Linked DNA regions of Homo sapiens. The protein of the gene in region 2 interacts with the protein of the main gene of each other region in a biochemical or structural test. Each region holds a gene or a part of one and is shown on either strand. Other genes may lie near its edges.

Region 1 (7,253 bases), on a different chromosome or scaffold from region 2:
TTTAGATGCTAGGGGATCTGCTGCCTCTTTCCTCTGTGTGTTACCCATTGCTGCCAGTAAACTCAGCTGAAACTGATCTTCCTTGCAGTTCATTTCATTCTTAGCAGTTAGTTGCATGAAGGAAATGGGGTCATCAGGCTGTACTGTCACATTCCTCTTTTCAGATTCTTTCTGTGTTGAGAATATAACAAAGTCTCTCTTTAATATGAAAAGATAGTTTTTTAGAGGCTTTTGACAGAGACAGCCCTCACATATGAAAACTGAAAAATCAACAAAACAACAAGAAAACCCACAAAGCACTTTTCTTTTCTTTTTTTTCTTCCTGAGACAGGCTGTTACTCTGTTGCCCAGGCGGAGTGCAGTGGTATGATCACAGCTCACTGCAGCCTCGAACTCTTAGATTCAAACGATCCTTCATCCTCAGCCTTCCAAGTAGCTGGAATGACAGGCACATACCACCATGCCTGGCTAATTTTCTCATTTTTTTTGTTGAGACAGGGGCTTGCTATGTAGCCCACACTGGTCTCAAACACCTGGCCCCAAGGAGTCCTCCTGCCTCAGCCTCCCAAAGTGCTGGGATTACAGGCGTGAGCCACTGCACGAAGAGACACAAAACACTTTTGTTGCCTCATCATATATACCTTACCTTTTGGGATAATTTCTCTTCTTCTAGTTTAGCAGATAACATGTGAGAAAGGGACTGTCTGCATTCCTTATTGAAAATGTCATTCATTAAAGGTGAACATTCAGACAAGACCTTGAGGCACAGGGAAATTCGATCCACATCATCATCAGTAATTGGCTTCTTAGGAAGAGAGGATTTTCCCAAATGCAGGATAGTAGCCATGAGCAACATAGCCTCAGCAACAAAAGACTAAGAAAGTAAAGAAATCGGTTACTGATATTGTCTTGATTCTCAGATTGCAATCATGTCACTTCATTATAACTCACAATCTAAATTTTCACTTCACCTGAATAAGATTTCAAATTCTTTGGATTTTATGTCCATATCTGTTTTTGCATTCTTCTCCTTCCTTTCTACTCTTAACTGCCACTCTCTAAGACCTGCATTAATCCTCAATTAGAGACAGCAGAGGCTTTTTAACTGTTTTCCCTTGCTCCAGTCCTTCTCTGTAACCACTTCATATGCTGATGCTGTCCTTTTTAATCCCAACTACAGAAAAGTTAAAAGAATGATATACTTTACCAATTGTTAACATTTTGCCACATTTGCTTACCTATTCTGTATATGTACACTTATTTTTTTTGGCTGACATGTGAAAAAGTCTTCACCTCATAAATGCTTCAGCATTCATCTCCTAAGAGTCAGAACAGTTTCCTACAAACCACAATTTCATTTTCTCATCTGAAAAATTCAACAATTCCAAAATACAGCTTCTATACTCTGAATTCAAATAAATCTCCCTAAATTGTCTTAAAATGTTTTTGTTTTATTTTTTAAATCCAGGATCAGCTTCATGCATTTTATCCCTCTTAATCTAGACCAGTTCTCTGCCGTTTTGTTTTTAATCGCACTAACTTTTTTAAAGAACTGAGGCCAGTTGTTTTATAGAATATCCCACACTTTTGATTAGAATACCAGATAGGTGATGTTTTGTATTTCACCCTGTACTGCATCACAAGGTACCTAAAGTTAGGCTGTCCAATTATTGTGCTGCTAAGCGTGATCACCTGATGCTGCTATCTTAATCTTTATACTGCACCAATCATTTCATTCCCTATGTAAATACCTTTAATGAATGTCAGCCTTCATACTGAAGTCCGTATTACTTAGCTCGCTATTCAAAGTCTTCCACAAGTGATTGCAACTTACTTTTTTAGTCTCATGTAGCATTATCCTGACACATATGCTCTAAGCCCTTGCCAAATTGCCTTTGGCTGAGTACTGATCTGCACACATGCATGAAAAACTACTGGAGGCCTGGGAAAAACCAGCAGAAGAGTAAGTATATGTCCCCCAAGTTTGGATACTGTCTCCAAAAGGAGAGGAAAGAGAGGAGGGGACAGAAAAAAAAATCCGAGGAAATGACTGAAAATTTCCCAAACTGATGGAGATATAAACCTGCAAACCCAACAAGCTCAATGAACCACAAGTACAGCAAACATGAAGAAAACCACACTAAGGCATATCCTAATCAAATTACTGAAACCAAGTGAAAAGGAGAAAATCTAAAACCAGTGGAAGAAATACACACACACACACACACACACACACACACACACACACACACACACTCTCTCTCTCTCTACACCCAGGGAGATAAGAATGACAGTAGACTTCTCACCAAAAAGCCAGAAGACAATGGAGCTTTACTTTTACACTACTGGGAAAAAAAAACAGAAGACTTAGAATCCTATACCCACAAAGGTAACTTTCTAAAGTGTACAAAAAAATAGGCTTTTTCCAGACAAAAACTGGAACAATCTGTTGCCAACAAATCTGCACTATAAGAAAAGTTAAAGCAAATTCTTTAGGCAAAAGATGTATGATACCAGAAACTTAGTCCTACACAAAGAAATGAAGAGTGTTGGAAATGGCATAAATGAAGGAGTGCCAGTGAGATTATAAGCAACCAAACTTCCTTCTTGTACCAAACAGTGCAAACATTATTAACTCGGTATGTTACAAGAAACTGGCTCTTTTAAGCAGGTATCAGTAAACACTCCCAACTTCCAGAAGTGATGCAACCAGGAGAGGAAAGCAAATTCAACTCTGAGATAAAAAAATGTTGGAGACTTTTAAAAAACATACTTTAAAGATTATACTGTGACCAGACCTGAATAAATAAATGCCCACAAAAGAGTTACAAAATAAATTATTGCTCAAAAATCAAATCAATTAAGGGATAATATACCTTGTAAATTATCTGGCTCTCATTTATGGCTTTTCTTATAATGGAATTAAAACAAAAACAAAAAGAACCTGGCCAGGCACGGTGGCTCATGCCTGTAATCCCAGCACTTTGGGAGGCCGAGGTGGGCGGATCACCTGAGGTCAGCAGTTCGAGACCAGCCTGGTCAACATGGTGAAACCCCAGTCTCTACTAAAAATACAAAAAAAATTAGACAGGCGTGGTGGCAGGCGCCTGTAGCCCCAGCTACTCGGGAGGCTGAGCCAGGAGAATTGCTTAAACCCAGGAGGCGGAGGTTGCAGTGAGCTGAGATCATGCCATGGCACTCCGGCCTGGGCAAGAAGAGTGAGACTCCGTCTAAAAAAAAATTTTTTTTTAGATCAAGCTGTTAGTCTCCAAAAACGAAGGAAATATGAGTGATGTGAGTGAAAGTGTTTCAATTTAGAAACCTGCTGTATAGATAACCAACATAATACGAAAGCTGAAGGAATCAAAAGGAGTCCCATTGCTACAGGCCCAATTTGAATGTCAGAAATTGCTGTGGTAGGACATTGTAACCAACTCTGCGCTACTACCACAAATGTTCTATGGATTCTGTTTCTTAAATAATAAGAGTTGAAACTACTTGATCAGTGGCAGCATAATGGATGTTGTCTTAGCAGGCATGAAAACATTCATTTCTTTCTACATCTCCATCAGAGCTCTTGGGTGACCAGCTAAATTGTCAATGAACAGTAATATTTTAAAAGGAGTCTTTTATTTCTGAGCAGTAGGTCTCAATGGTGAGCTTAAAATACTTAGTAAGCCATCCCGTAAAGAGGATGTGCTGACATCCAGGCTTTGTTGTTCCACTGACAGAGCACAGACAGAGTTGATTAAGCACAATTCTTAAGAGCCCTAGGATTTTCAAAATGGGAAATGAGCAATGGCTTCAACTTAAGTTACTGGTTGTATTAGCCCTTACCAAAAGAGTCAGCCTATCCTTTGAAGCTTTGAAGCCAGGCACCGACTTCTCTCTAGCTACCAAAGTCCTAGATGGCATCTTCTTCCAATATAAGGTTGTTTAGTCTACACTGAAAATCTGTTGTTTAGTGTGGTCACCTTCACCAATGATCTTGGCTAGATCTTCCAGATAACTTGCCACAGCTTCTCCATTAGGACTTGCTACTTCATGTCAAACTTTTACATTATGAAGACGGGCTTATTTCCTTAAACCTCATGAATCAACCTCTGCTAGCTTCAAACTCTTCTTCTGAAGCTTCCTAACCTCTCTCAGCCTTCATGGAATTGAAGAGAGTTAAGGTCTTAGTCTGGATTAGGCTTTTGGCTTAAGGGAATCTTGTGGCTGGTTTTATCTTCTATCCAGACCACTCAAACTTTCTATCAGCAATAAAGCTATTTCGCTTTCTTTCTTCTTCTTTTTTTTCCTCGAGACGGAGTCTTGTTCTGTCTCCCAGGCTGGAGTGCAGTGGTGTGATGTCAGCTCACTGCAACCTCTGCCTCCCATGTTCAAACAATTCTCCTGCCTCAGCCTCCCAAGTAGCTGGGAGTACAGGCGCCTGCCACCACACCTGGCTAATTTTTGTATTTTTAGTAGAGACAGGGTTTCACCATGTTGGCCAGGCTGGTCTCGAACTCCTGACCTCGTGATCCGCCTGTCTCGGGCCTCCCAAAGTGCTGGTGTGAGTCACCACGCCTGCCAAATGTTTCACTTTCTTATCATTCATGTGTTTACTGGAGTAGCACTTTTAATTTCCTTTAAGAGCATTTCCTTTGCATGCATAACTTGGCTACCTACTTGGCAAAAGCAGCCTAGCTTTTGGCTTAGCTCAGCTTTTGACATGCATTCCTTACTAAGTTTAATTATTTCTCACTTTTGATTTAAAGTGAAAGACATGTGACTCTTCCCTTCACTTAGAAGCCACTGTAGGATTATTAACCGGCCTAATTTCAATATTGTGGTATCTCAGGGAATAGAATAGGGAGGCCCAAGGAGGAAAGAGACGGGGTAACAGCCGGAACACACACAACAATTATTGATTACGTTTACTATTTTATATGGGAATGGTTCCTGGCATCCCAAAACAACTATGATAGTAACATTAAAGATCACTGATAACAGATCACCATAACAGATGTAATAATAATGAAAAAGTTTGAAATATTGTGAGAATTACCAAAATGTAACACAGAGATATGAAGTGAGCATATGCTTATTTGGAAAAATGATGCTAACAGACTTGCTCAACTCAGGGTTCCCACAAACCTTCATTTGTTTAAAAAAAAAAAAAAAAGCAATATGTGCAAAGTACAATAAAATGAAGTATGCCTGTAAATGCTATGTAAATAATTGTTACACTGCATTGTTTTCAACTTTCTATTATTTTTTACTGTTTATCATTTTTTAAAAAAGATATTTTCAATCCATAGTTGGTTGAATCTGCAGGTGCAGAAGCTGTGAATATGGAGGACCAACTGCATACCATTGTAAATGGGTGTTTGGTTAGAACGGTCAGAAGCTACAAAGCAGGCATGAACTACAGATGAGAATAACTTAAGAGACATTCTGGGATAAAACAGACAATGACCGAATGGATGCAGATGCTGGAGAGAAGGACATTTCCTTCACTGGTCCTGAACTAATCCCAGCAAACTGAGGTGACTTCATAAATCCTTTCTCTTCCACTGGAATAATCACATGACATTGTTATTGTATTACTTTGTCAATTTTCATTTTTTTAAAGCCCAAACAGAAGAGGAAGATACTTTATCAATTTTAGAGTAATATATTACTGTGTCCACTTCTGCTATTAAATCATAAACTCTTTCATGACAGAAACTTAGCATTAATTTTTGAGTCCCTCACTGTTCAATGCATATAGTAGGCACTCAATGTTTAATTGTTGGTTAAATGTAAAATAAATGAACTTACATTTTGCTTTTTCTTCTCCTGAACCAAAGCTACATAGCGCAATGCAATCTTGGTCAGAGTTGTGGCAAGGGAGGCAGCAACAAAGAAATCTCCATCCAGAAGGAATCCTCTCAAGGGAGGTCTGCAAAGCAACCAAGGAAAATCAAACCCACCAACTTGCTAAGCAGCATGCAGCTTCTGTATAAATGAATGATATAGGCCTATTAAACACTCTTATTACCATCCTTCAGTGATAAGGATACCTTAGCTAACTAACTCCTTAGCTCCCAGAAGAAAGAAGGAAAAAGAAAAATAATACATGACTTTAAAACTTATCTTTGGCCAGGTGCAGTGGCTCACACCTGTAATCCCAGCACTTTGGGAGGCCAAGGCGGGCGGATTACCTGAGGTCAGGAGTTCGAGGACAGCCTGGCCAACATGGTGAAACCCCGTCTCTACTAAAAATACAAAAATTAGCTGGGCATGGTGGCACAAACCTGTAATCCCAGCTACTCAGGAGATTGAGGCAGGAGAACTGCTTGAGCCCAGGAGACAGGTTGCAGTGAGCCATGATCGCGCCACTGCACTCTAGCGTGGCCGACAGAGCAAGACTCTGTGTCAAAAAAAAAAAAAAAAAAAAAAAAAAGAAAACTTATCTTTGAATGACACAAAAGCCATCAGAATATGGAAAGATACAATATTTAATTAGGGGCATACGTAATTGCAGCTAATGAAGTACCTCCGAATTCCAGCTTACCTGTTTATTTACTGGGTAAGCCTCAAATTCTTCTTCCATAAAATGGAGATAATATATTCTATCTCAAAGGCTTATTGTCAAGACTATATGAGACAAACTACTTAGCACAATGCCTAGCACTTAGTGGGTATTCAGTAAAATTTTAGGCAAAGATTTCACCATCTTCACCATTAAAATTTACTTAATAGAAAAATGCACAATTTTATTCCATCATTTAGAAATTGAAAAATCTTCAAAATGTTTTCAGATGCTAATAAACAACAAAACTCAAATATCTTCAGTTACCCCCACTTAGCATTTTCTGAGTAAAAATAATTTGAGTTTAAACAGAACAGTTATTTCCATAAAAACACTGGAAGGGACAGAGAATTAAAACCATCAATACAATTCCTAGGGGGAAGAACTTAAACATCCTCCGCTTCTCAAGTACCTTAAATGGCAAAGATTTTCATTTTGGTTGCAAAAGCAAGAGGAAAGAAATCATTTGACTGTCTTACATACAAGAGTAATAATAAAAGTAGTACAGCTGGCAGGGTATATGTGCCATAAATTACCTGTCTTCCTCTTTCTTGGTGGGTCTAGAACTGCTAAGGGCACTCTGAGTTGCATAGGTACCCATTTCAGTAACCAATTTCTGAACTGGCCCTACAGTTATTTCTTCTTCAGGTTTTAATTCACCAGCTTCTTTCTTTATTTCTGACTCTACAATTGG
Region 2 (7,925 bases):
TGCACCTGTAGTCCCAGATGCTTTGGGGGCTGAGGTGAGAGGATCACTTGAGCCTGGGAGGCTGAGGCTGCAGTGAGCTGAGCTCACACCACTGCACTCCAGCCTGGGTGACAAGTGAGACCCTGTCTCACAAAAATAATAAAAAAAAAAAAAAACTCTCTTTCAAACCTTACAATAATCCTGTGAAGTATCAACATTCCCATTTTACAGACTGAAACACCAATTCAGAAGGATTAAGTACTATGCCCAGGACACAAAACAAGTAGTCAAGTTAAGATATGAATCCATATCCATTCTGACTAACAAAACCTGAGATCTCTTGGCTCTACCATGGATGTGACCAGTATGTAAAGAGAACAGAGAGGAAGAAGGCATTCTGGGTAGAAGGATCAAAATAACACCCAAGTTTGAAGCTAGAAGGGGATGAGCCAAGTTTTGCAGAAGTGGGGAAAAGGCTCTGGGCAGTTACGGGAAATAAATTAGGCGACAGATTATAAAAAGGCTAGAATATACAGATGGCTAAGAAATGCAAGTTTGATCCTATAGGTCAGTAAGATGGAACTGGAAATTGTAAGCAGGAAAGTAGAGGATAAAACCAGAGCATTAGAAAGGTGAAATTCAACAAGGCAGAGATGGGCTGGAGAAAAAGCATGGCATAATGCAGACAGAATTATTATTTAAAATCCGAAGTAGGACAGGTGTGGTGGTGTGCATCTGTAGTCCTAGCTCCTCGAGAGGCTGAGGTGGGAGGCTCGCTTGAGACTAGGAGTTAGAGGCTGCAGTGAGCTATGATCAAACCACTGTACTCCAGCCTGGGCAACAGAATGAGACCCCATCTCTTTAAAGACAAAACGAAACAAAAGAAAAAAAAAACAAGCATTTCAACATTTAAATAAATCCTTTTAGCAATCCTTTTGTAATAAAATAATCGAACTATCTCTTTTGCATGGATATTTCTTAAAACACATCTCCAGACACATTTTAAAAAATGGCTACTATCTCCTACCAATTCTTACACAGAAACCAATTTCACTTCTAAATGCATCCAAAAAAGAATACTCCTTAGGGCAGGAGCCACATTTGAAAACCTTCAACAGCAGCCTCAGAGCAGGAAGGGCCAAAAGGAAGGAATAAAAATGGAAACTCTAACTCATAAACCCCTTGGTAAAGAAAAAGGTGCAAAAAAGTTGTACCTTCACATTTACAGAAACACTCTAAACTTTTTTTTCAGGGGGAAAAAAAGCTAGGACTGACAAATGAGAGAATGACTTTCACATAACCCCAGTTTGACTTTATCACCCAAATAATTTAAGAGTTTCCACTTCTCACAAAAATCAATACAAAAACATCATTCTTACTACTTCAGGGACAAATTTCCTTTCTCTTTTATGTATGCGAGGATTTGGGTTTGTTTTAAGGTCTGAACTGGTTAAATTTAGTGTTCTGGCAGCTGAAAAACAATCATCATAATTCTCAAGTTCTCCATCCTATTCAATCTTTGCCACGCTAAGCTGCATGAAGCCATGGCTCCATATGGCTTAAACACATTTGAGACCTGGTGTAGGATCACATTAAACCCTTCAGTGCCTATCAGATACACAATAACCTAATTAGCTAGCAGAGCACATGTGACAGTGGCCTGGCCAGAAACGCAGTGGAAGACACTTCCTTCAACTCTTTCACCAAAGACGAGGTGAGCACTTTGCAAAGGGGAACTGGGAGAAAATAGGGAAAGGTGGAGAGGAAAATGTGGAGGGAAGTGTGCAGCTAGGGTTTTCAAAGAACATTACAGTAAACAGAAATGGCACCCACAGGGGGTGCACTGTAGAAAAAGCAATCATCTTTTTTGCAACACATACAATGTGGAATAGATGACCTCTCTGAATTTTGCACCTCTAACTTTCCACTGAACCTTTCAGAAAGTTACTAGTGAGGTTGAGGTCTGAGGAGCTTAAGTGCCCAAACCACATTTTGGTGTCATTTCCCTGCAAAAGAAATGCGGTATCTATGCCTAACTGCCAAGGTATTTTAGCTCATATACAGGGATAGATAAGCTTCTAAAAAATTACATTTGTTTCTCCTACCAGATATTCCCAGGCTGTGGCCACCAGATTTTCAAACAGCCTAGGGGTAAAGCATTAAACACGAAGTGAGTACAACAAAATTATTCACAGACAAGAAAAGTGTGGATGCTAATGGGTAACACTAAGGGAAATAAACACATGTTGTTTTTAATCCAAGACAAACCAAAACCCTTAAAAACACCTATTTTATAACTCTTAACAACCACAGCCTCTGTATCAAAGACTCAAGAACTTGGATTTACCGAAAAGTCAATTTGCAGTACCAAAATTACCGAGATTAGCCTCTGGCTGTCGACACTGACTTAAGAACCTGCTTTAGGCTGGAGCTGTTTAAAATTTAAACCAAAGTAAACTCCTTCAGGACCTTAAGACTACTGACTGTACTTTAAATTTTTTCTGCACACTGAAGAGGGGGCAGGCAGGCTTCGGTACCCAGATAGGCTGTAAGCAAAACAAAGATTTGTTGATTTGTGCGTAGACTCTAAATTGCTGCTGTAGGTCCGTTAAGTAAGAGAAAACTCTTTTTCTCTGTTAAGTCATACAGATAAATTTAGTCGGTAGCTCTGCATAGAAAGTGGGGACAAGCGTGCCCTGAAGGGCCGCATCATAACGCCGACCCCGGCTCGGTGGGGGCCAGTCGGCAGCTTCTCTCTTCAGCCGTGGGCGCTGGGGCCGAGCACGGTGGAGAAAGGCCGGCGAGCCGCTGGTTCCCGGCCTATGGCTACTCGGGCGAGGCCTAGGAGAGGCCGCGCCGGCTGAGGAAAACCGGTAAATGCGAGGAGCTCCCACACCCTATCTGCAATCCGGGACTCAGAAGCCCTCCCCGAGGCCAGGGCCCGCACCTGCCGCCCCGCCCGCCGCGCCTCAGGCCTCTGGCCCGTGGGACTCACAGCTTCAGCTGCTCGTAGGCCGCCGTCGCCATCCTGCACAACCACCTCCTTCCTTCTCTCTCCGCCCGCCCCGCCCCGCGCCGCCACCTCGGCTACAACTCTACCGGTCACCCTGGCACAGCGGCCGCAGCTCCCAGCCTCTTCCCACCCCTTTCCCCGCCCCGCAGGAGAGCCGGCCTGAACGGGAGGCGGTGGAGGACAAATTAGTGCGCAAGCAAGAGCACGCGAGAGATGCCGCCGACGCGGCGGGTTGGAGTGCGACGAAGAGCGCCGTGACGAAGCCGCTGCGGATTGGTGGGGCGCGTTTTGGGGAAAGGCAGAGCAGCGGGAGCGCGGCGCAAGGGCAAAATGGATCGTTGGTACCCGGAAGCCCGTTCAAACTGTATAAGGGTGATCAGCTATCACGGAGAAGGCTTTAGCAAGTCGGGGCCAGTGGCGCAATGGATAACGCGTCTGACTACGGATCAGAAGATTCTAGGTTCGACTCCTGGCTGGCTCGCGATGTCTGTTTTGCCACACTTGACCCATGTACTACTGGGTCTTGTAAAGATGTATATTCACAATGTGAAAGTATTACAAGACCTTGGAAAGGTGTATGGTTAGAATGTGAAAGTTAAATATCTGAAATTTTGATGCCGCTTTGCTCACAATGTCATCCTTTATCCTTTAAACCTGGAGTTGTCTGAGGTGGTTTGCAAACTGCAAAGCGCCCTGTTCCCAATGATGCACCTGAGAAGTCTGTAAATGGGGTAAATTTAGGCAAACACACCTGGAAAAGTGGCATTTTGGAGTGGGGAATGCTGTGGCCGGAGGTTAGCAACCGGATGATGCAAAAGCGTATTTAAGGCAGCAGTTCTGGCCTTTCCCCGCCACGGAGCAGAAGCCCCCATAGTGATGTGAGAAGCGGCGCTGTCCCAGTTTACTAGGATGGGATGGGCTTTGGATCTAACCAGCAGCGAAGAAAACCTGCGGTGCGGCTGCGCTCGGTAGTAGGGGTCCACAAAGCGTCAGAATCTGCAGCAGCCCCGGCCTTTGCGAGCTCCAGCTCCGAAGTCAACCCGGCCCCCAAATTCCACTGGGAAACCTTAAGACACCGGTGTTTTTACCGTAAGAAGACCTCAGGTAATCTAGTATATTACCCCTCATTGTATGGATGCGCGACTTGGACACCCGAGAAGGCGCGAAACGTCTGCGGCCTAAAGGGACTCGAACCGGGGGATTATATGAGTCATCGGACACTGTCCGTTAACCAATCACTCAATCGATCAATTAATTTCCGCAACATAACGTTTTCCCCTGATAAAATTATAGATTTTTAAAATATATAAAATTATTGGGAATATTAACGCGATTCCCACCCTAAATCATTACTATTATTTTTTTTTTCCTTAAAGCCTTTTTTTCTTCTATATTTTTTAACATGGGCATACTTGCACATGTGTTTTTCCAAATTGGGGTTGTACGGAAATGGGTTCCTCATTTTGTCTCCTTACCTTTTTGTCTGAGATTTAAGGTCATTAAATATTCTTTGAAGATATTTCATCAGAGAGCTAGATATTTTAAGCAGAATCCTTATGCTGGGAATTTGGGTGGTTGTCAGTTTAACACCTAGAAAAAATGATGCTGCTTAGGAGTTCGAGACCAGCCTGGGCAACATAGCAAGACCTCATCTCTATTTACTAAATAAATAAATAAATTTTAATTAGCCAGGTGTGGTGGTGTGCACCTATAGTCCTAGCTACTCAGGAGGCTGAGGTGGGAGGATCACCTCAGCCCAGGAGGTTGAGGCTGCAGTGAGCTGTTACCATGCCACTGCACTCCAGCCTGAGCAACAGAATGAGACCCTGTGTTGAATTATTATTATTTTGAGACGGAGTCTCGCTCTGTCACCCAGGCTGGAGTGCAGTGGCGTGATCTCGGCTTACTGCAGTCTCTGCCTCCCGGGTTCAAGCAATTCTCCTGCTTCAGCCTCCCAAGTAACTGGGACTACAGGTGTGTGCCACCACGCCCGACTAATTTTTTGTATTTTTTAGTAGAGACGGGGTTTCACCGTGTTAGCAAGGATGGTCTTGATCTACTGATCTCGTGATCCGCCCACCTCAGCCTCCCAAAGTGCTGGGGTTAGATGTGAGCCACTGTGCCCGGCCGAATTATTTGTCTTACAAATTTCTAGAGGTGGAACGACCAGGTGGACATCTGTAAGGTCCATTTTATGGACATTTTTAAGACTTTTGTTACTTTCTGACTGCCCTCCAAAAAATTAAACCAAAACACACTTCCATCAACAGCACCTGTTTCTCTGTTTTCGTGCATGCTAACCAACACTGGCTATTATAAATTTAACCGTGATTTGCAATTTTCATAATTGGAATATGGAACTTCCTTTTACATGTACTTTATATATTTTCTCTTGATGTATTGAATTTTTTCTTACAAATTTGATTTTTTAATATATTAAGGGTATTAACTCTTAAATACGTTGCAATCTTTTTTCCAGCTTATGATTTACCTTTTCAAAATTTTTTTAACGGCTGGGCACGGTGGCTCATGCCTGTAATCCCAGTGCTTTGGGAGGCCAAGGCAGGTGGATCTCTTGAGGTCAGGAGTTCGAGACCCGCCTGGCCAACATGGTGAAACCCTCTCTCTATTTAAAAATACAAAAATTAGCAAGGCATGGTGGTGTGTGCCTGTAGTCCCAGCCACTCAGGAGGCTGAGGCAGGAGAATTGCTTGAACCTGGGAGGTGGAGGCTGCAGTTGGCTGAGATCACGTCACTGCACTCCAGCCTGGGTGACACAGTGAAACTCTGTCTCAAAAAAAAAAAAAAAAAAAAAATATATATATATATATATATATATATATTTGAACTTGTAGTAATTTTCACTTTATATATTCACACTTACTAATATTTGGTTTCTTCTATTATATGATTTTTTAATGTTTTGTTCTTATGTTGTTTTTACCATTTACTTTAATCCATTTGTCATTTATTTTGTTGCCATTTATCATGATGTAAAGATCAATTAATCTTAAAACCTGACACACTTTATTGAGCAATTACTTCATGCCAGAAACTGCTCTAATTCCCTTACTTGGATGAATTCAATCATTCCTTACAACAATTGTTGTACCTGAGCGAGTTAGAAAAACGCCACACTTTAAGACGAATTAAGAGTCCTTTATTAGCCAGCGACCGAGAGACGGCTAACACTCAAAATTTTCTCAGCCCTGAGGAAAGGGCTAGATTTTCTTTTATACTTTGGTTTAGAAAGGGGAGGGGGGGGTCTAGTTAAAACAATTTTACAGAAATAAAGTAGGCAAAAAGTTAAAAGGATAAATGGTTACAGGAAAGTAAACAGTTCCAGGTGCAGGGGCTTTAAGACTATTACAAGGTGATAGACCCGGGGCTTTGGGCGTTATCAATCAGACGAATTCCTGGGAATTGCGGATATAGCTTGCCACAGTATCTTATCAGTTAATTGCATTCTTGGATGTGCTGGGAGTCAGCTTGCACAAGTTAAGTCCTTGAGGAAGGGGTGCCAGTGAAAGAGCCAAGATGGAGTCTGTCTGGCTGTCTTAGCTAAGGGAGAGTCAATTCAGGTGGAAACAAGGCTAGGTGATTAAAGGAAGAGGGAGAGTCTAAAAACAGGGTTAGTAAAAACAAGGTTGGGCATTACACAATCCCATGAGGTAAATTCAGTTGTTATCCCCATTTTTACAGATGAGGGAACTAAATTGGCTTAAGGTCATGGAGCAATTGAGTTATGAAGCCTGAGATAGAATGTGAGTCTGGGCTCTTGACTCCAAGGCCGTCCTGCCCTGTGGACTCACTGTACCCCAGAAGACACCGCATGAGTAGGTTCAAGGACAATTCCCTGTCTGGGCATGGACGGCAGTCACATCTGCCACTTACCCCTCACCCCTACTAATTAGCAACAAGAAGACCCCATTTCTAGTCCTTATGATGCTTTTACCCACTATCTCTGGGCTCTTGGACATTTCCTCTCCTTTAATAAAATAGGGGTTTAAGTTGCAGCCTGTCTCATAGGCTTTAGGGGGAAAAGAAATGCTTCCATATGAGCAACTGCCACCCATTGTCATGTAGAAGGAACTAAGAGAGGCAAAGTTTGACGTTTCTTTACCAGTTGGGAACCATAAACCAAGGCCTTTGTGACATTCAGTGAGACTGAAAACCAGAAAATAATCTGGCAGAAACCCCATTCTTCTGGGGTTTTTAAAGGCCAAACAAGCCAAAATCAGATTCCAAGGAAACCAATGTTCAGGATAAGGAACCAGCCAATGATGGGTAATATAAATTCATATCTGTAGCCAAGTTTTTCCTATAGTAAAATTGTTATATAACTTTTTACAAAATCTGCCAGAGGCCTTCCAATGGAGACAGTCCAAGCTGCAGATGAAGCTTGTTGGCACATCCAAATAATCTCTACAACCTACTTTTAGGGCCAGCTCCCACTTACAGACCTTTTAATATAGTAGTTAAAAAAAATTTAGGCAGATAGGGTACAGGAGTCCTTGGTAAGGCTTTTCTTTTAATAAAAAGCAGCCCCCAAAACCATTTCTTTTCCAACAGAAAGCAGCCTGAAAAGTCAAGCTGCAAGCATAAATAAGCAAGCTAGAAGCTTGCACAGATAAATGCCGGCAGCTGCACCTGGAAGACAGGTGCATCCAATATGGAAGATTTCGCCTCCCTTCTGTTTGTTGCCATGTGTGCAGGTGTCAAGGCTCTGGCCAAGTAAAAAACCCTATCTGCATAATAAAAGATCAAGGTGGAATGGCCAGTTTCTTCGAGGGCTATGTAAATGGCACACCTGGTCAAACCAATCCCTTGGGCTCTATGTAAATCAAATACCACCTCTTCAAACCCCCTCCTCTATATATCAGTCTGCTTCCCGCCAGGAATGGGGAGATCCATTCGGAGTCCTCCTCCCTCT
Region 3 (7,253 bases), on a different chromosome or scaffold from region 2:
TTTTAGATTTCTCAATTTTAAAAAAGTTGAAAAAAGAATGTTCTGATGCCCCTTGCACATATATGCCAGGTAAGGCTTTTCCATGAAGAAAATTCATGGAGGACTTCAGTTACATCTCAAGACAAGACAGTGATTTCAGGAAGCTGTCTTCTCCCATTCTGTATCCCAGATAATTAACTTACCCAGTGGTGACAGCATATTTGATGTGGTTGCTTGTGGTATAGATAAATACCCCACTCTCATCCCAGGCCCCACTCTTGACACGAATGTTCTCATGAATGTTACATAAAGCATCCAGTTTGCGGTTACAGATCACAATGGCTGTAAGAGGCAAAGGGCATGAGTGTTCTGTTGGATAGGGTAAGTGCCGTAGACTGGCAGGGATCGGGGTGGAAGGGAATGGTCTCTAAATCAGGGTGGATATAATGAAGACTCACCGTGTTTGGCTAGTAGTGCTACATGTGACATGTCTGCTGACCAGATAACGTATTTCACTTTAGAAATCTTCACAGATGCCAGAGTCCTGAGATAGATAGAGATGTGCAAACATGAATGGATCTATTTCCCTTGTCTCAGGCTTTGATCTACATCAATTGCACCCTCTAATTAATGTAAACCCCAATTTCTTAATGTAATTCTAATTACATAAAATACTTAATGTAATTCCTACATAGTAGCTCAGTGACTTAAACATTTTGGCTCACATTGTGCACTTACCCCTTCCTCAACCCCCTCTCCCTCATTTCCTTGTATTATTAGGGAATCTGTGTATGTCTGTTTTCACCACTGGACTGCAAGCTCCCTTAAATGTAGGAACTATGTTATTAATCTCTGTCTCTCTCTCATTCTAAGCTCGGAGAACACGCTTTGTTCAGGTAAGTACTGTAAAAACAGATAAATAACCAAGAATCTCACTGTAATGCTAGTGTGGACGTGAAGAATGGAGAGTGATCACAGAAGGGAAAAGTTACTATAAAGAGTCTTGGAGCACAAGAAGTGGCCAAGCCACAAGACAAACTCACTTGGGGAAAAAAGGTTCCCACTAAAGATGTCCACTCTCCCCAACTACAGGGCTGTCTGCTTAGGGGCACCTGATATGTTACCGCTTCTGCTGTACGTCAAAGAGTGTGATAGAGTCCGCATCTCGAAGCAGGAGATTGCCTGTGCCAGCATAGAAGATCTCATCACAGTTGGGCACCTGTACCTTTTTGGTGATCTCATTCTTCAGATTCTTGATCAGAAGCTGCAATAAGTATTAAAGATGGGGTTAAGAGAAGAAATGTGTATAGATGATGATGACAACTGATGATGTTCCTCAGCAATTGTTCCTTAGCTTCAATTAACTAAGTATTTTTTGTCCTGTCCATGTCAATTACCACTGCAGACAGACCATGCCAACCAAGATCTTCTCTAAGGGCCTTAATACATTATTTTTTCTCCTCCAACTAAAACATCCTGAGAAGTCCCAACTAAAGTCTGAATTTCTCAATGAATGAGAGAGAGAAAACACTGTTTCTGGGGCTTAAATTTTGTTAAATATTTTCTTCAGAGTGCTTTATCTTGTGCTGGACCTATTACATTTCAAGTAACAATGGAGGCAGCAGAAGGAGGGAAATTTCCTCATCCAGCCCACTCACTTCAGATTTGATGCGTTTTGGGCTCCTGTAGTCAAGAGTGACTTTAGCTTGGTTCTTAAACCCAGAGCCACGGCGATCATCAACCCAATCAAATCAGTTTTAATGCCATTCCCCCAAGAGGGCTTAGTGTAGGGCTAGAGACAGAGGTACAGCCAATACATGAGAATCACGGCTGCCCGGGGGAGAACAGAAAAAACAATGGTCTTTATTTTGCAATACACAGGCCACTGCCACCACACTCCCCAAATTAGTTTCTGCTTTTAGTCTTAACTCACCGAATGCATCCGATCTAGGACAGCAAACCGATTTCGAGCGACCCAAACGGCTGTCAGGCCTGAGGATCGTTTCCCTTCAGGCGCTGAGAAGAACAAAACCAAAGGGTGGGAGCATGTGGTGAGTCACTGGCAGGTGACATAGTCGGGTGCCATGGAGCTGCCAGTCTTGCTGGATGCCATCTTGGCTTTGCCAGTTGAGCTGCTTCCTAACTAATTCAGCCATAACCTGGGGCTATTATTGAGTGACTTTTCCCCACCAGTCCCCTCCAAACACCAACCACCACCCCTGCCAAGGCTCTTTTCTCTAGGCCAAGTGGTTGCATTTCAGCCAACATCATGTACTGGCAGAAGGGCCGCCCATCTTGGGAGACAGCACACTCCATCAAGCTAACGAGCAGGGCCTCCCTGGCCAAGCTGCGGCAAAGCAAGCCTGTGTCATAGGACCCCCTCCACAGGATGCAGCTGCTCTCTGCTGCTTTTAACATGCAAATGCAGACTTCCTAGTAGGGCAGGGTGAGGCAGAGCACTCCCAACTAAATCTTGACAGGAGAGCTTGGTGCTGGGCGGTATTTAGAACCAAGTTGTTGCTCTGTAAATGTCAACTGACCATTCTTATCACCCTGAAGAGAGTTACAAAATGTTCCTCAGTTCAGTGGCTTATTAGAATTTTGAAATGGACACTCCATTCTCTGGGAAACTTGTAGAAGGATAAACAGAAGGGTGCATCAAAATACTCTTTTACCTATTAGACCAGCAGAAAACTGGAGAGAACATGCTGGCCAGTCTTGCCCCTGGCATCTGGAGTGGCAGGCAATTTATGAAACTAATTATTATCAAAACCAACACTCCCGTTTTCCAGGGGCCAGGAATCTGCATTATTCAAGCCCATCTCTGTTGCCCACCACTGGGCTGCTCCTTTATTATTATCTCCCTCAAAAAATGAAGTACAGAAAATAAAAGTGGTAATAAAACAAAACAAAATATTTTAAATTCTATTAATTGTAAACACAGATGGGGAAAAAAAAAAGCAAAGAGCTAGTTGGGAGGTACCAAACCATAAGATTTAGTCAGAAATGGCTTAACTGACTAATTTATAAGGGAGACTTTGACTTATGGATACCAAATACAAATATCTTTTCTTTCTCTCACTATGAACACATTTAAAAGAGAGGAGATCGATTAGCAACAATAATAACCCAGGGGCACCCACAAAAGAAACAGAGCTAGCAAATTATTTCTTAGGAATCTGTTGATGGGGTCTAAAATATCATTAAAATATGCCAGTAAGAGTGGGGATCTGCAGAATAAATCTCTGACCTGGTACTAGCCATAAACCCGCTGGAAGAAGTGCACCCAAAAGACCATAGGCAATAGTCAAATCCATTCTGAGAATGTTTTGTCAGCAAGTTCTAATCACAAGGACATCAACAAGGGATAGTGGTAATGGAAGAGGTAGGCAGGAGTCTCAGCTGGATCCTGGGATCCCAGGTGGGGTGTGGGGCTGTTAGCAGCCTCATCTTTTTGACATGCAAAAGGAAGCAAATCGGATCTGGATGTGGATAGGACAGTATAAATCCCTAGTCCCAGGATGAGGCATTATAAGATTGGAACCACATTTTTAAATAAATGAAACTACCAGGGTGAAAGTCATATCAACTGACAATAAACTAGGATAACATGCTGTGCTGAAAGAGAGAATGGAGAGTTTCTAATAACCAAATTATAAAATATATATATCTAGCTGGGGTAATAAAATGGAGGAGGAACATGAATATTTCACACCATGGTCGCCTCTGATGCAATTGTCAGCAGCACCTGCCAACAGACATGAGTGATGTGGCCATGGCTTGGGGATGGAATGTGAAAAACTTGAAGAGGAGTTATGATGCGGGTGAGGAGAGCTGGAAGCAGAGTGGGGTAGACAAAAAGAACACTTACCATCAGGATTCTGGGAGTCAGCATCTTTAGGGATGGTGTACAGGTCATAGGTACTATTCTCTAGATTGCTAGCTCTCTGTAGAAGAAAAGGGGAAATTAAAATGTTAGTGAGAAGCACCCAAGATACCAGTTTTCCAATTTACTCTGACAGAGAAAACAGTTCCATTGCACAGACACCAATCTGAAACCATACTTTTCTTACCCTTCACCCAGAGGGCATTTGACTGTTTCTACATCTATGAGTTATAGGGCTCTTTGCCAAACACATCAGCACTGATGTCACTTTATTTTCTTTATCCTCCAAAGATGCAGATATTATCTGAATGAAAGTAAGAAATGCTCTCTACTCCACAAATTAACAGACTAGGACCCTGATATTCTGGTACCCCACCCTGAGGACTCATCAACTGAGTACTCAACCTCTGGAAAGGAAAAAAAAAAGACATCAAAGAAAAGACACTATAGGAATGCAAATGTTTATTGGAAAAAGAAGAAAAGAAAAAACACTCAAGAAAACTCAGAGTATGGGACTACTAGATATTAAAGAAGAACAGATTAGACAATATAGTTATATGAGGAAAGACATTTAACTTCATTCCTTTTAACTTGGCCACGAGGGCACTAAAATTAGAATGTCATTTCTTTTTTTTTTTTTTTTGCAAATTCTGTTGCAAGAAACAGAGAGGAGTCATTGATGACTCTGAAGCCAACCCCACTGATATGAACTTCCTCTCAAAATAATAGTTCTTCTATTTTCACCCAAAGGAAGGGATCAAGGTAAACATTTTCTTTCCATAGGAAATATATATATATAGTCTAAACATTCTCTCAAATTATTTCTAGTGATCTGGGTCATTCATTCTGATGCTCCATTAAGTTCAGCTTTAGGAAAGATAGGCAGTTCACAAATGCTCAATATGTTTACGACAACTGAAACCTACCTGATTTGAGTCTCTGAGTGATCACTGTGTCAGCTCTCACAAAATGACCATTAAATAGTTTCTAAGAAGCCATTAAAGATTCCCTAAGGGCATAAGAAAGAGACCTATGGAAAATGAGGAGAACCTAGGAGGGCTCCACAGGTTACTTACTGTACAAAGCAGGACTGCATTTTCTGCTGGATTGTATGACATATTGAATACTGGAAACTTGGAACCACTAGAGATATATATAGAAAAAGGAGAAAACAGGGAAGAGGCATAAGAATAGAAGGAAGAAAGGAATCACCCCCACACCTCCTACTTATCCAATCTTTACACTATATACTCATCACTTTTATAATCAGGAATAAAATGAATAAATATTGTATTCTCTTCCTTTAAGGCTTGGCAACTTCCCTAGCTCAGCTTTGAACAAACAGTTTTAAAAAGTAAGCCATAGTAGAAGTCAAATTATTCAACAGAAGGTAGGTAGGGTTAACACTCACTGTAGTGAGTGGGACTGGTTCTGCTTGGATACAAATTCCTACACGTAATTGCAGTGGACACCACAGAGTAACATAATGTGATTTGTCTCTGGCTGGTTTCTCCTGTCCCTTGGAGTATTCACATAAACCCATTTTTTTATTGTAATGATGCTAAAGGGTGGTTATCAAAACCTCATTCCAAATTTTGCCACCATGAATGTTTCAGCATGCTGATGCAGCTGGCTTTTCAAAAGGACAGGTCCTTTTGCCAGGCATCCCAGAGGTTATTGTATCTTCAGAATTAAGAGTTTCCAGGGACATATATTCTGGTTCAGAGTTGTGCACTTTTTGCTGGAAGGCAAGGGAGAGTTAAAGAAAAGAAATGCCAAACAAAGGCGAAAAGTTCTGTTACCAGTTTGGGCCATTCTCTATCAAGAAACTTCCTCTGGCTTGCAAGAGACCCAGCAAATTGTGGCAGAATGATTTTCCATCCACAAGGTCACTAGCATTCTCAAGAAGGGAACTATCATTCTACTCATGACCACTTCCTTGCCTCCCTCACTCATTGGGTTTAAACTGAGCGGGCTCATCTAATGGGGATTCCATCTGTGACAGAATACGAGATCCAAAATGTCATTTAAAAGAAGAGTCTTGGTTGGGTGCGGTGGCTCACGCCTGCAATCCCAGAACTTTGGGAGGCCGAGGTGGGCGGATCACAAGGTCAGGAGTTCGAGGCCAGCCTGACCAACACAGCGAAACCCCGTCTCTACTCAAAATACAAAATTAGCCAGGTGTGGTGGTGCACACCTGTAATCCCAGCTACTTGGGAGACTGAGGCAGGAGAATTGCTTGAACCCAGGAGGTGGAGGTTGCAGTGAGCTGAGGTTGCATCACTGCGCTCCAGCCTGGGTGACAGAGTGAGACTCCATCTCAAAAAAAAAAAATTTAAAAATAAATAAATAGGCTGGGCGCGGTGGCTCACGCCTGTAATCCCAGCACTTTGGGAGGCCAAGCCAGGCAGATCATGAGGTCAGGAGATTGAGACCATCCTGGCTAACATGGTGAAACCGTCTCTACTAAAAAATACAAAAAATTAGCCAGGCGTGGTGGCGGGCGCCTGTAGTCCCAGTACTTGGGAGGCTGAGGCAGGAGAATGGTGTGAACCCGGGAGGCGGAGCTTGCAGTGAGCCGAGATCGCGCCACTGCACTCCAGCCTGGGCGACAAAGCGAGACTCCGTCTCAAAAAAAAATTAAATAAATAAAATAAATAAATGAAAGAAAGAAAAGAAGAGTCTTGTTTGTGGGAGTTGTATCAGGGTGACAGATGAGAGGGTTTGGAGGAAAGAAACAAGTCCGATTTACCTCCGCAACTGCATCACAGCTACATCTTTGGAGCTGTTGAAATCCAGCTGTCGTAAGAATCGGTCCTTGACATAGTGTAGCATATTGCCATGAACAGCATAGGCTGGCCGTTCCCGTTCCAGCTTAAACACAATCATACCACCATCATGGCCTGGGGGACAGGGAGAGGAGGAGAAAAAATTAAGCTGTAGGCAAGAAAAAAACCTGGAAATTGGAGATACGTAAGGATGAAGATTATATCTGTAAGACAAGACACCTGAATGCATCCCTTATTTGCCTAAATTCTCACAATTCTTGGAATCTTTATTTAAATAATTCTCTGTGAATCCTTTCCTAATACTATTCACACTGCCACACTTAGTGTCACTATCCACACTGCCCTTTTCTGTGTTCCCCTAATGCTTTGTACAAACCTCCATTACAGTACTTATCATCCTGCACTGTAATCATTTAGGTCTATCACCCACATTGTAACATGAATTCCCTGAAGGCAGAAATTATAATTTCCATCCTTCCCCAGTCTCTAGCATATAAAAAGAGTATAAGAAGTATTTACTGAAAAAATGGATGTTAAAAACCCTTTGTGATTCTGTTTTTTAAAATGTTTTGCTCTTTCCCTACTAGCACCATCATCCC

The links.
Region 1: the proteins of SACM1L (region 2) and COPB1 form a complex in vitro, tested with the Homo sapiens proteins (one study listed by BioGRID).
Region 3: the proteins of SACM1L (region 2) and COPA form a complex in vitro, tested with the Homo sapiens proteins (one study listed by BioGRID).

What each region holds. Positions count from the first base shown.
Region 1 is NC_000011.10:14,468,690-14,475,942, forward strand, and holds part of COPB1 (coatomer subunit beta), read right to left. Parts: coding exon 7,096-7,253; intron 5,927-7,095; coding exon 5,806-5,926; intron 875-5,805; coding exon 647-874; intron 172-646; coding exon 1-171. UniProt on the Homo sapiens protein: The coatomer is a cytosolic protein complex that binds to dilysine motifs and reversibly associates with Golgi non-clathrin-coated vesicles, which further mediate biosynthetic protein transport from the ER, via the Golgi up to the trans Golgi network.
Region 2 is NC_000003.12:45,684,547-45,692,471, reverse strand, and holds the start of SACM1L (phosphatidylinositol-3-phosphatase SAC1), read right to left. Parts: upstream 3,077-7,925; 5' UTR 3,007-3,076; coding exon 2,975-3,006; intron 2,125-2,974; exon of another isoform or gene 2,085-2,124; intron 1-2,084.
Region 3 is NC_000001.11:160,305,251-160,312,503, forward strand, and holds part of COPA (coatomer subunit alpha), read right to left. Parts: intron 6,769-7,253; coding exon 6,618-6,768; intron 5,009-6,617; coding exon 4,942-5,008; intron 3,927-4,941; coding exon 3,851-3,926; intron 1,996-3,850; coding exon 1,913-1,995; intron 1,244-1,912; coding exon 1,104-1,243; intron 524-1,103; coding exon 438-523; intron 349-437; coding exon of another isoform or gene 322-348; coding exon 183-321; intron 1-182. UniProt on the Homo sapiens protein: The coatomer is a cytosolic protein complex that binds to dilysine motifs and reversibly associates with Golgi non-clathrin-coated vesicles, which further mediate biosynthetic protein transport from the ER, via the Golgi up to the trans Golgi network.